Linked DNA regions of Homo sapiens. The protein of the gene in region 1 purifies or fractionates together with the protein of each later gene. This does not show direct contact. Each region holds a gene or a part of one and is shown on either strand. Other genes may lie near its edges.

Region 1 (5,040 bases):
CCTGGCATCAGTGCCTCTGCGCCCTCCTCCCTACAGCCCTGAAGTTGCTCTGTCATCCCAAACACTCTGCCTTCAACCCTTTCTCTGCATTTCTTGGGGGTTTTTTTGGTTGTTTTTTTTTTTTTTTTTTTCCCAGAGACAGGACCTGGCTACGTTGCCCAGGCTGGTCTCGAACTCCTCATGCGATCCTCCTGCCTTGCTCTCCCAAAGTGCTGGGATTACAGGAGTGAGCCACCGCATCTTGTCGAGAGCTCTTTCCATAGCACAGACCTGACCCTCCTCTGCTCAGAATCTGCCATGGCTCCCCAGTACCCTTGGGAGAAGCCCAGGTGTCTCACCATGGCCTTCAAGGTCCACCTGGCCAGTTCCACCATTAGCTAGCTGATCCTTCTCCCCAGTCAAGGCTATCTCCTCATCACCCCCCAGGCTCCTCTGGTTCCTACCTTCACTGCCCATCCTTCCTACCGTCTATTTCTCACCAATCCCTTGAATCCCAGGCTTCTAAGAATGATTTTCAGTTCATTCGCATCCAGGCCCTGGGGAAAGGCTGTATTCTCCCTTGGCACTTCTTACATATCCCTTCCTGGGGTAGACCCTGCGCCAGATGCTGGGGACACATCTGTGAACAAGACAGACCACCCCTGTTATTTCAGTAGGGGAGACAGATGGTAAATGCTAACTAAGCCCTTTCGTAACAGTAGTGTATCTACAGGTGATATCACCAGTGAGAGAGAGCAGGAGAGGGGATTATTTTAGGTGGCAGGTGTTGCAGTCTGCTTTCCTGAGAAGCAGATTCTGACTTGGATGTTTTCAGGCAAGAAGTTTATGGGAAGTACCCTGGGTTCCGCACCTCTTGGGTCTAGGGAGGTAAAGGAAGCAAGATTTGGCAAGGTGAGAAGTTGGACTGAAGTCTAAGGAAGGTCTCAGGCTGGGTGCAGTGGTTCATGCCTATAATCCCAGCACTTTGAGAGGCTGAGGCAGGAGGATTGTATGAGCCTAGGAGTTTGAGGCCAGCCTGGGCAACAGAGGGAGACCCCATTTGCACACACACACACACAAATTAAAAATTAGCCAGGCATAGTGGCACACACCTGTAGTCCCAGCTACTCGGAGGCCCAGGTGGGAGGATCCCTTGAGTCTGGAAGGTTGAAACTGCAGTGAGCCAAGATTGTGCCACTGCACTCCAGCCTGAGCGACAGAGAAAGACCCCGTCTCAGGAAAAATAAAAATAAAAAAGTAGGCCGGGCCCCGTGGCTCATGCCTGTAATCCCAACACTTTGGGAGGCCGAGGTGGGTGGATCACCTGAGGTCAGGAGTTAGAGACCAGCCTGGCCAACATAGTGAAACCCCCTCTGTACTAAAAGTTAGCCGGGTGTGGTGGCATGCACCTGTAATCCCAGCCACTCAGGAGCCTGAGGCAGGAGAATCGCTTGAACCCAGGAAGCGGAGATTGCAGTGAACTGAGATCGTGCCATTGCACTCCAGCCTGGGCAACAGAGTGAGACTCCATCTCAGAAACAAATAAAAGAAAGAAAGAGGGCCTCAGTCAGCCCCACGGGGTACTTGGAATCCAGGATGGCCCTTCACAGTTGTCCCCAGTTGGGGTGAGGGGGCTGGGCCTTAATAACCTCTACATCAACCAGTCCTCAGAGGTGTGCTGGCCTTAGGCAAGGGGCTCTCAGCAGCTGAGGCAGCTCCCAGAGAGGGGTGACAGCTGCAGGCTGACAGCTGTCATCCTTCTTAGCAGCTGGTGGAATAAGTCCTTCCGTGCTGTAGGAAAGATCTGGGTGTCCACAATAGGGGAGGTCAGGGAAGCCTCTGAGAAGAGACATTTAAGTGAGACTCAGAAAAGCAGACAGCAGCCAGGCACAGTGGCTCACACCTGTAATCCCAGCACTTTGGGAGGCCGAGGCAGGTGGATCACCTGAGGTCAGGAGTTCGAGACCAGCCTGGCCAACATGGTGAAACCCCATCTCTACTAAAAATATAAAAATTAGCCAGGCATGATGGCTGGTGCCTGTAATCCCAGCTACCCAGGAGACTGAGGCAGGAGAATCGCTTGATCCTGGGAGGCGGAGGTTGCAGTGAGCTGAGATCGTGCCACTGAACTCCAGCCTGGGTGACAGAGCAAGAGTCTGTCTCAAAGAAAAAAGAAATTGGCCGGGCACGGTGGCTCACACCTGTAATCCCAGCACTTTTGGGAGGCAGAGGCGGGCAGATCATGAGGTCAGGAGTTTGAGACCATCCTGGCTAACACGGTGAAATCCCGTCTCTACTAAAAATACAAAAAATTAGCTGGGCGTGGTGGCAGGTGCCTGTAGTCCCAGGTACTCGGGAGGCTGAGGCAGGAGAATGGCATGAACCCAGGAGGCAGAGCTTGCAGTGAGCTGAGATCCCGCCACTGCACTCTAGCCTGGGCGACAGAGCCAAACTCTCTCAAAAAAAAATAATAAGAAGAAGAAATGCAGAGAGCTACAAAAAGAGCACTGCAAGTAGAGTGAGCAAGTGCAAAGGCCCTGAGGCAGGCCCCAACTTGGTCTACTCAAGAAAAACAGCAAGAGAACGGGGTAGCTGGGAGCACAGGAGGAATGGGGAAGAGTGGGAGATGGTTCAAGAGGTGGGTGAGGGCCAGACCAGGCAGCATCTTTTAGGCACCCTCAAGAAGTTTGGCCTCGATGCCAAGGGTACTGGGGAGCCACTGCAGGGTTTTATGCAGAGGGGAGGGATGACCAGTGGGTGGTTGGTTTTTTTTGTTTTTTTTTTTTTGAGTCAGAGTCTCACTCTGTCACCCAGGCTGGAGCGCAGTGGCACAATCTCGGCTCACTGCAACCTCCACCTCCCAGGTTCAAGCGATTCTCCTGCCTCAGCCTCCCAAGTAGCTGGGACTATAGGCATGCACCACTATGCCCAGCTAGCTTTTGGATTTTTAGTAGAGATGGGGTTTCACCATGTGACCAGGGTGGTCTCGAACTCCTGACATCAGGTGATGCACCCGCCTCGGCCTCCCAAAGTGCTGGGGTTATAGGCATGAGCCACCGTGCCCGGCCTGACCAGTGGATGTTTTAAAGAGGTCCCTCTAGCTGCTCAGTGGAGGATGGACAAGAGGGAGGAGCAGGCTAGTGAAGAGGTGGTTGGGACAGTCAAACCTGGGGCCAGAGGTGGCAGGAAGCCAGAGGATTTGTCCTGGGAGCAGACCAGATAAAGACTTGCTGAGGCCAGGAGCAGGGGCTCACGCCTGTGATCCTAGCACTTTTGGGAGGTCAAGACAGGAGGATCACTTGAGGCCAGGAGTTTGAGACCCAGCCTGGCCAACATAGCAACACCTTGTCTCTATTCAAAAACAAAACTTTGCAGAAAAGATGTTTGGGGGTAACAGGGAGGTTACCCCACAGGTTGGGGTTTGAGCAAAAGGTTTGTGTGCTAAAGTCACAGAAGGGACACCTTCCACACCTAAGGTTATTCATTAACCTTGGGCTCAGATGTCAGCTCTGAAGAAAAGTAATTGACTTGGGCATGTCAATGTTGGGGTTAGACTGCTAGATTTTTGGTTGGAGAGCCTGGATGGGAGAATGGAGATTTCATGGAGATGGGGTAAACCAGGAGGATTACTTGCTGTTCTCTGCTTCCAACTGTCCATTCATGTTTGCACCCCCGACCGCCCCTGGAGAGCCCCTAATTGAGTGGGTGGCGGTCTGGGACGAGTGACAGACTGTCCCCCACTGCAGATCTGGACCCCCTGGAGCTCAGCGAGGGGAAGGTGCTTTCCTTACCTCTAAACAGCAGTGCAGTCGTGAACTGCTCCGTGCACGGCCTGCCCACCCCTGCCCTACGCTGGACCAAGGTGAGAGGGAGAGGAGCCCCCTCGGGCCCTGCACTCGCACCCTCCTCTCTCCCCTCACTCCTCGCCCTCTCACAGCGTCCTCCTCCTCCTCTGCCCTTCCCAGGACTCCACTCCCCTGGGCGATGGCCCCATGCTGTCGCTCAGTTCTATCACCTTCGATTCCAATGGCACCTACGTATGTGAGGCCTCCCTGCCCACAGTCCCGGTCCTCAGCCGCACCCAGAACTTCACGCTGCTGGTCCAAGGTTCAGGGGGCAGGGAGGGGGTGGGCTTGGATGGGGACAGTGTGGGGTGTGGGACCTGGACAAACAGGACGAGTTCCTGAGTCCCTGGCTGGGGACTCCATCTTCTGCTCGATGCCTCTCTTCTCTCTCTCTCTCCTCTCCCTTCACTTTCTTCCCATCCCCACCACCCACAGGCTCGCCAGAGCTAAAGACAGCGGAAATAGAGCCCAAGGCAGATGGCAGCTGGAGGGAAGGAGACGAAGTCACACTCATCTGCTCTGCCCGCGGCCATCCAGACCCCAAACTCAGCTGGAGCCAATTGGGGGGCAGCGTAAGGGACCTTCCTCTCCACCCTGAGCCCCCTCTCACTCATCCAAGTATCACACCCTCCTTTCCACTTCCTGGGAGACTGGACGTCGTTCACCTCTGCCCTTGACCCCACCCCTTGACCCCACCAGCCGGGGCCTGATCGGAGCCTCCATAGCCCGCAGAGCCAATCCCCGGACGGCAGGGTTGGGTGAGCAGCTCTCTGACCCTGAAAGTGACCAGCGCCCTGAGCCGCGATGGCATCTCCTGTGAAGCCTCCAACCCCCACGGGAACAAGCGCCATGTCTTCCACTTCGGCACCGGTGAGTGACTGAGGTGGTGGCAGAGGAGCCGGGTGTGGGGCAGACAGAGCCCACTGCCTGACCCACGCCTCTCTCCATCCTGTCCCTGCAGTGAGCCCCCAGACCTCCCAGGCTGGAGTGGCCGTCATGGCCGTGGCCGTCAGCGTGGGCCTCCTGCTCCTCGTCGTTGCTGTCTTCTACTGCGTGAGACGCAAAGGGGGCCCCTGCTGCCGCCAGCGGCGGGAGAAGGGGGCTCCGTGAGTGGCCTGCTATCTGCAATGACCACCATAGCTTAACCCCATCCCCACCCTCAACCCCAAGCTCAACCCATAACCTCAACCACATCTTATCCTCCACCCCACATCCC
Region 2 (4,269 bases), on another chromosome or scaffold:
TCCTTGTGGATGAATATGGCATGGAAGAAGGCTGTCGGCAGGGACTGCTAGACATGCTCCAGGTATCTTTTCCATGAGGAGTGTAGACGCATCAGGCCTAGAGGGTCTGAAGGCCTAGCAGCGTATTCTTTACCATGTCTTTAATTCTGTTGCTTCTTTATGTTTTCCCCCAGGCATGTTGATTTCCTAATAACAGGGAGGTGGAAGCTTCCCAGTTGTTCTCTGAACAGGCCTGTTTGAGAGAATGAGAGACTGACCACATGAGTGTAATGATTATTACATGTTACTGCCTGGTTTATGCTCTTCCAGAGATAGGGTGTTTGGAGGGGGGAGGAGGTGAGAAAAATGAATCTCTAAGCTCAAGCATTATTGTATTTTTAACTTCTTGCCTGGAACAGCCAACTGACTAGTTTACTTAGCAGCAGGGAGGGTTTTAGAATTAATAATAGCATTGGAAACAGCTCCTCAGATACTGCTTTTCCCTCCCTTCCAGCCACAGAGGGGAATATTGAGTTGAAGAATGTTGTTTCTTTTCCCAAGATGTCTTTTCATTTAAAATTGATATTTCATAATTATTATAAAAACTTCCACTCCCTTAGTGGACTATACCTAAATAGAATCTTTGCTTTCAGAAATTTCTAAAACTTTGAGATGACATCTGTTGAGTTTTATCAGCTAAAATCTGTTTTCTCAACCCTTTCTTAAATGTGGACTTCATAGGTGAAAACTGTTTATGTCAACTGGGAAGGATTTATGTGTTTCTTTTCCTGATCAGATTCTCATTACAATCTTTTTCTTTTCCCAGCTGTGCTTTTCTTCTTTGTTCCTTTTGTACTTATTGTAATAAATATTTGGCAAGTCTGAATGCTGTGGCATTTCTGAAAAAGCATTTCTTTTAAAATCACTGTTTTGTTTTAGGCACTGTGCATCCCCACCTTTCAGCTCCTAGAACAGCAGAATGGTCTCCAGAATCACCCTGACACTGTAGATGACCTGTTCCGGCTAGCCACCAGGTAAATCCTTCTGAAGAGCCCATTTCTTAATTGCTCATCCTATCACTGCTTAGTCTTGCCATCTGACCCTTGGTTGTTTTATTCTTGTAAAATGAAGTCACTGGAGTAAGTAGATTAATGATTCATAACCCAAAGGTAAATTGCAAGCTGATATATCCCCAGCAGTGACGCAGAGTATTGCGGGAAGCAAGGGATAAAGGAGCTGAGTTCCTGCCAGGAAGGAGGGCTCACACACAAGACAATGCAGTGTGCCTGGCAAAACACTTGACTAGATCATCTCTACAGTCCTCTGTAGGTTTTAACTGTTCGTGCTGTTGCGATTTCATGTTTCACCTCAACCTTCTCTTTGAGAAGCTTAGCATCCTTTAGATATAATCAGTTTCGGAATAAAGAATGTTTGGGATTTTAAGATGCCTTAGCAGTTATCTCATACTGTATTTCTCAGCTCTACTCACAGCCTACTTTATCAGTAGCACTGATAATATGATTGCCAAACTTCTGCTTGAATTCCTTAGTCCCTAACTAAGGAATTTGAACCAAAACTGTTACCATATCAGCATTAAAAAAAAAAAAAAAAGAAAAATCATTATTTTCGAAACAACAAAAGCCCAACTGTTATATCATTTACAAATGCAAAGTAATGTTGACTTGATTGTTTCATCTTAGGATTGATTTTTTTTCTTTTTTCTTTTTTGAGATGGACTCTCACTCTGTTGCCCAGGCTGGAGTGCAATGGCATGATCTCGGCTCACTGCAACCTCTGCCTCCTGGGTTCAAGTGATTCTCCTACCTCAGCCTCCCGAGTAGTTGGGATTACAGGTGCCCACCACCATGCCCAGCTAATTTTTGTATTTTTAGTAGAGACGGGGTTTTGCCATGTTGATCAGGCTGGTCTCAAACTCCTGGCCTCAGGTGATCCGCCCACCTTGGCCTCCCAAAGTCCTGGGATTACAGGCGTGAGCCACCGTACCTGGCAGGATTGAATATTGAACCCTTTTTTTTTGTTAGTTTTTGGATAGGTTAGAAAAACCCTTTTTTTTTCCTTTTCTTTTTTTTTTTTTTTCAGTTGATAGAATTGTTGGATGGGCTGTCACCCTCTGTTTTCTTTTTTTTTTTTTTTTTTTTTTTTTTTGAGACGGAGTCTCGCTCTGTCGCCCAGGCTGGAGTGCAGTGGCGTGATCTTGGCTCACTGCAAGCTCTGCCTCCTGGGTTCACGCCATTCTCCTGCCTCAGCCTCCCGAGTAGCTGGGACTACAGGCACCCGCCACCACACCCAGCTAATTTTTTGTATTTTTAGTAGAGACGGGGTTTCACTGTGTTAGCCAGGATGGTCTCGATCTCCTGACCTCGTGATCCACCCTCCTCGGCCTCCCAAAGTGCTGGGATTACAGGCCTGAGCCACCACGCCCGGCACACCCTCTGTTTTCTTAGGGTATGTATTCCTTGGAAAACTAGTCCCTAAAAATGTTCTTTATACAAATGATGAAACAAGTTTGGAGTATACTGTACCTTTTTCTGAAGAGATTCTCCCTGTATATTAAAGGAACTTAGAAACCTGATAGTAGTTTAAAGGAAAAAATAAACAAGCAAAACTACTTTCAAAATCCAGCAGCATTTCCCAAGCTTACCTGAACACACAACCTTTTCTTTGAGGGATTCCTGTTGACATCCTGGGAACTGGAATTCTGTGAACTTTAGTTTGGGAAATGCTGTTCTAGCATCTTTAGGACTTTTTAACCTAGGAGAGTTTCTACTTGTAGGTCCTTTTGACTGGTCTTTCTTGATTTATAAAATCTTAGTTGGAAATAGGATGTGGTGACACGTCTTTTAATATACTAATCTTAAGATATGGTCCTTTTTTTTTAAAGAGCAACTTTAGGTTCACTGCAAATTTGAGTGAAAAGTTGCTCCCATATACCCCTCCCTCCTAACACACACAGCCTTCCCCTCTATTAGCATCCCCCACCAGAGTAATACAAACAGTGACCCTATATGAACACATCATTATCACCCAAAGTCCATAGTTTACATTAGGCTTCACTCTTGGTGTACATTCTGTGGGTTTTGACAAATGTGTAATGACATGTATCCACTGTTATAGTATCATACAGAATACTTTCACTGCCAAAAAAAATCCTCTATGTTCTGTCTATTCATCCCTTCTTCCCTGAAACCCCCCACCAACCACTGATCTTTTTTACTGTCTTCATAGTTTTGCCCTTTTACCCTGGCTGCTTTTATAGCCTAATCTTGTCATTTATACCTAGTCTCACTTTCCACACCAGGTTTATTCAGCGTAGCCCTGTCACCTTGCTGCGGAGCCAAGTGGTCATCCCTATCTTACAGTGGGCCATTGCCTCTACTACCCTGGACCACCGGGATGCCAATTGTAGTGTCATGAGGTTTCTACGAGACCTCATTCATACAGGGGTAGCCAATGATGTAAGTATAAAAATGATACCATTTCTACTTAACAGCTTTTATCTCCTATCTCTTTGTCATTCCTTAGGAGAAAACCAGCATCCCAGTATTTCCTTACTTGATCTATATTGGTAGACATATATCATAGTGGATCATTCACTAGCCAAAATATCAACTAAGACACTTGTGCTGGGTGCTTTAGGCTATATAAAGCAGTCTAAAACTGTTCATGCTCCCAAATCATTTGGTGTCTAGTTGAAGAGAGAAACAAGTTTAAAGAGTTAAGTAACAACAAGATGCCAGTGTTTGGTGTTTTTCATTTGTTTTTGAAACAGGGTCTTGCTCTGTCGCCTAGGCTGGAGTACAGTGATGTGAATCTCAAGGGATCCTCAGCTACTGAGTAGCCAGGACTACAGACATTCAACACCATGCCTGGCTAGTTTTTATATTTTTTGTAGAGATGGCATTTCACCATGTTGCCCAGGTTGGTCTTGAACTCCTGGCCTCAAGTGATCCTCCCACCTTGGCCTCCAGTATTTGATTGTCAGATGAGTGATAAAAGTCATGATTGGTATGAGATCAGACGAGGGAAAGCTCTAGACCAAAAAGAGTTGGAATAACTTTATGGAAGGGGAGGGATTTAAATGAAGCCATGAATTAGAGGTAGAATTTTGATGGATTAGAGAGGCAGATAGTCATACTGCCTCTAAGCCAAGATCAGAGCAAGTCAGAATAGTACTAAGTTTGTTAGTAGACAACTAAGCAGTGGGAGTAGTAAAGTGCTTCACAGGAATTTCGAAGGTAGGTTTGATTAGATGTGGAGTAGAATTGTAGA

The links. The genes of interacting proteins can lie anywhere in the genome.
Region 2: the proteins of BCAM (region 1) and TNPO3 purify together in Homo sapiens (affinity purification with mass spectrometry; 2 studies listed by BioGRID and IntAct, with this or other methods). This does not show direct contact.

What each region holds. Positions count from the first base shown.
Region 1 is NC_000019.10:44,814,797-44,819,836, forward strand, and holds part of BCAM (basal cell adhesion molecule isoform 1 precursor), read left to right. Parts: intron 1-3,725; coding exon 3,726-3,841; intron 3,842-3,944; coding exon 3,945-4,086; intron 4,087-4,259; coding exon 4,260-4,396; intron 4,397-4,549; coding exon 4,550-4,694; intron 4,695-4,785; coding exon 4,786-4,930; coding exon of another isoform or gene 4,931-4,934; exon of another isoform or gene 4,935-5,040. UniProt on the Homo sapiens protein: Transmembrane glycoprotein that functions as both a receptor and an adhesion molecule playing a crucial role in cell adhesion, motility, migration and invasion.
Region 2 is NC_000007.14:128,971,612-128,975,880, reverse strand, and holds part of TNPO3 (transportin-3), read left to right. Parts: coding exon 1-62; intron 63-173; exon of another isoform or gene 174-336; intron 337-918; coding exon 919-1,013; intron 1,014-3,298; coding exon 3,299-3,455; intron 3,456-4,269. UniProt on the Homo sapiens protein: Importin, which transports target proteins into the nucleus. Specifically mediates the nuclear import of splicing factor serine/arginine (SR) proteins, such as RBM4, SFRS1 and SFRS2, by recognizing phosphorylated SR domains.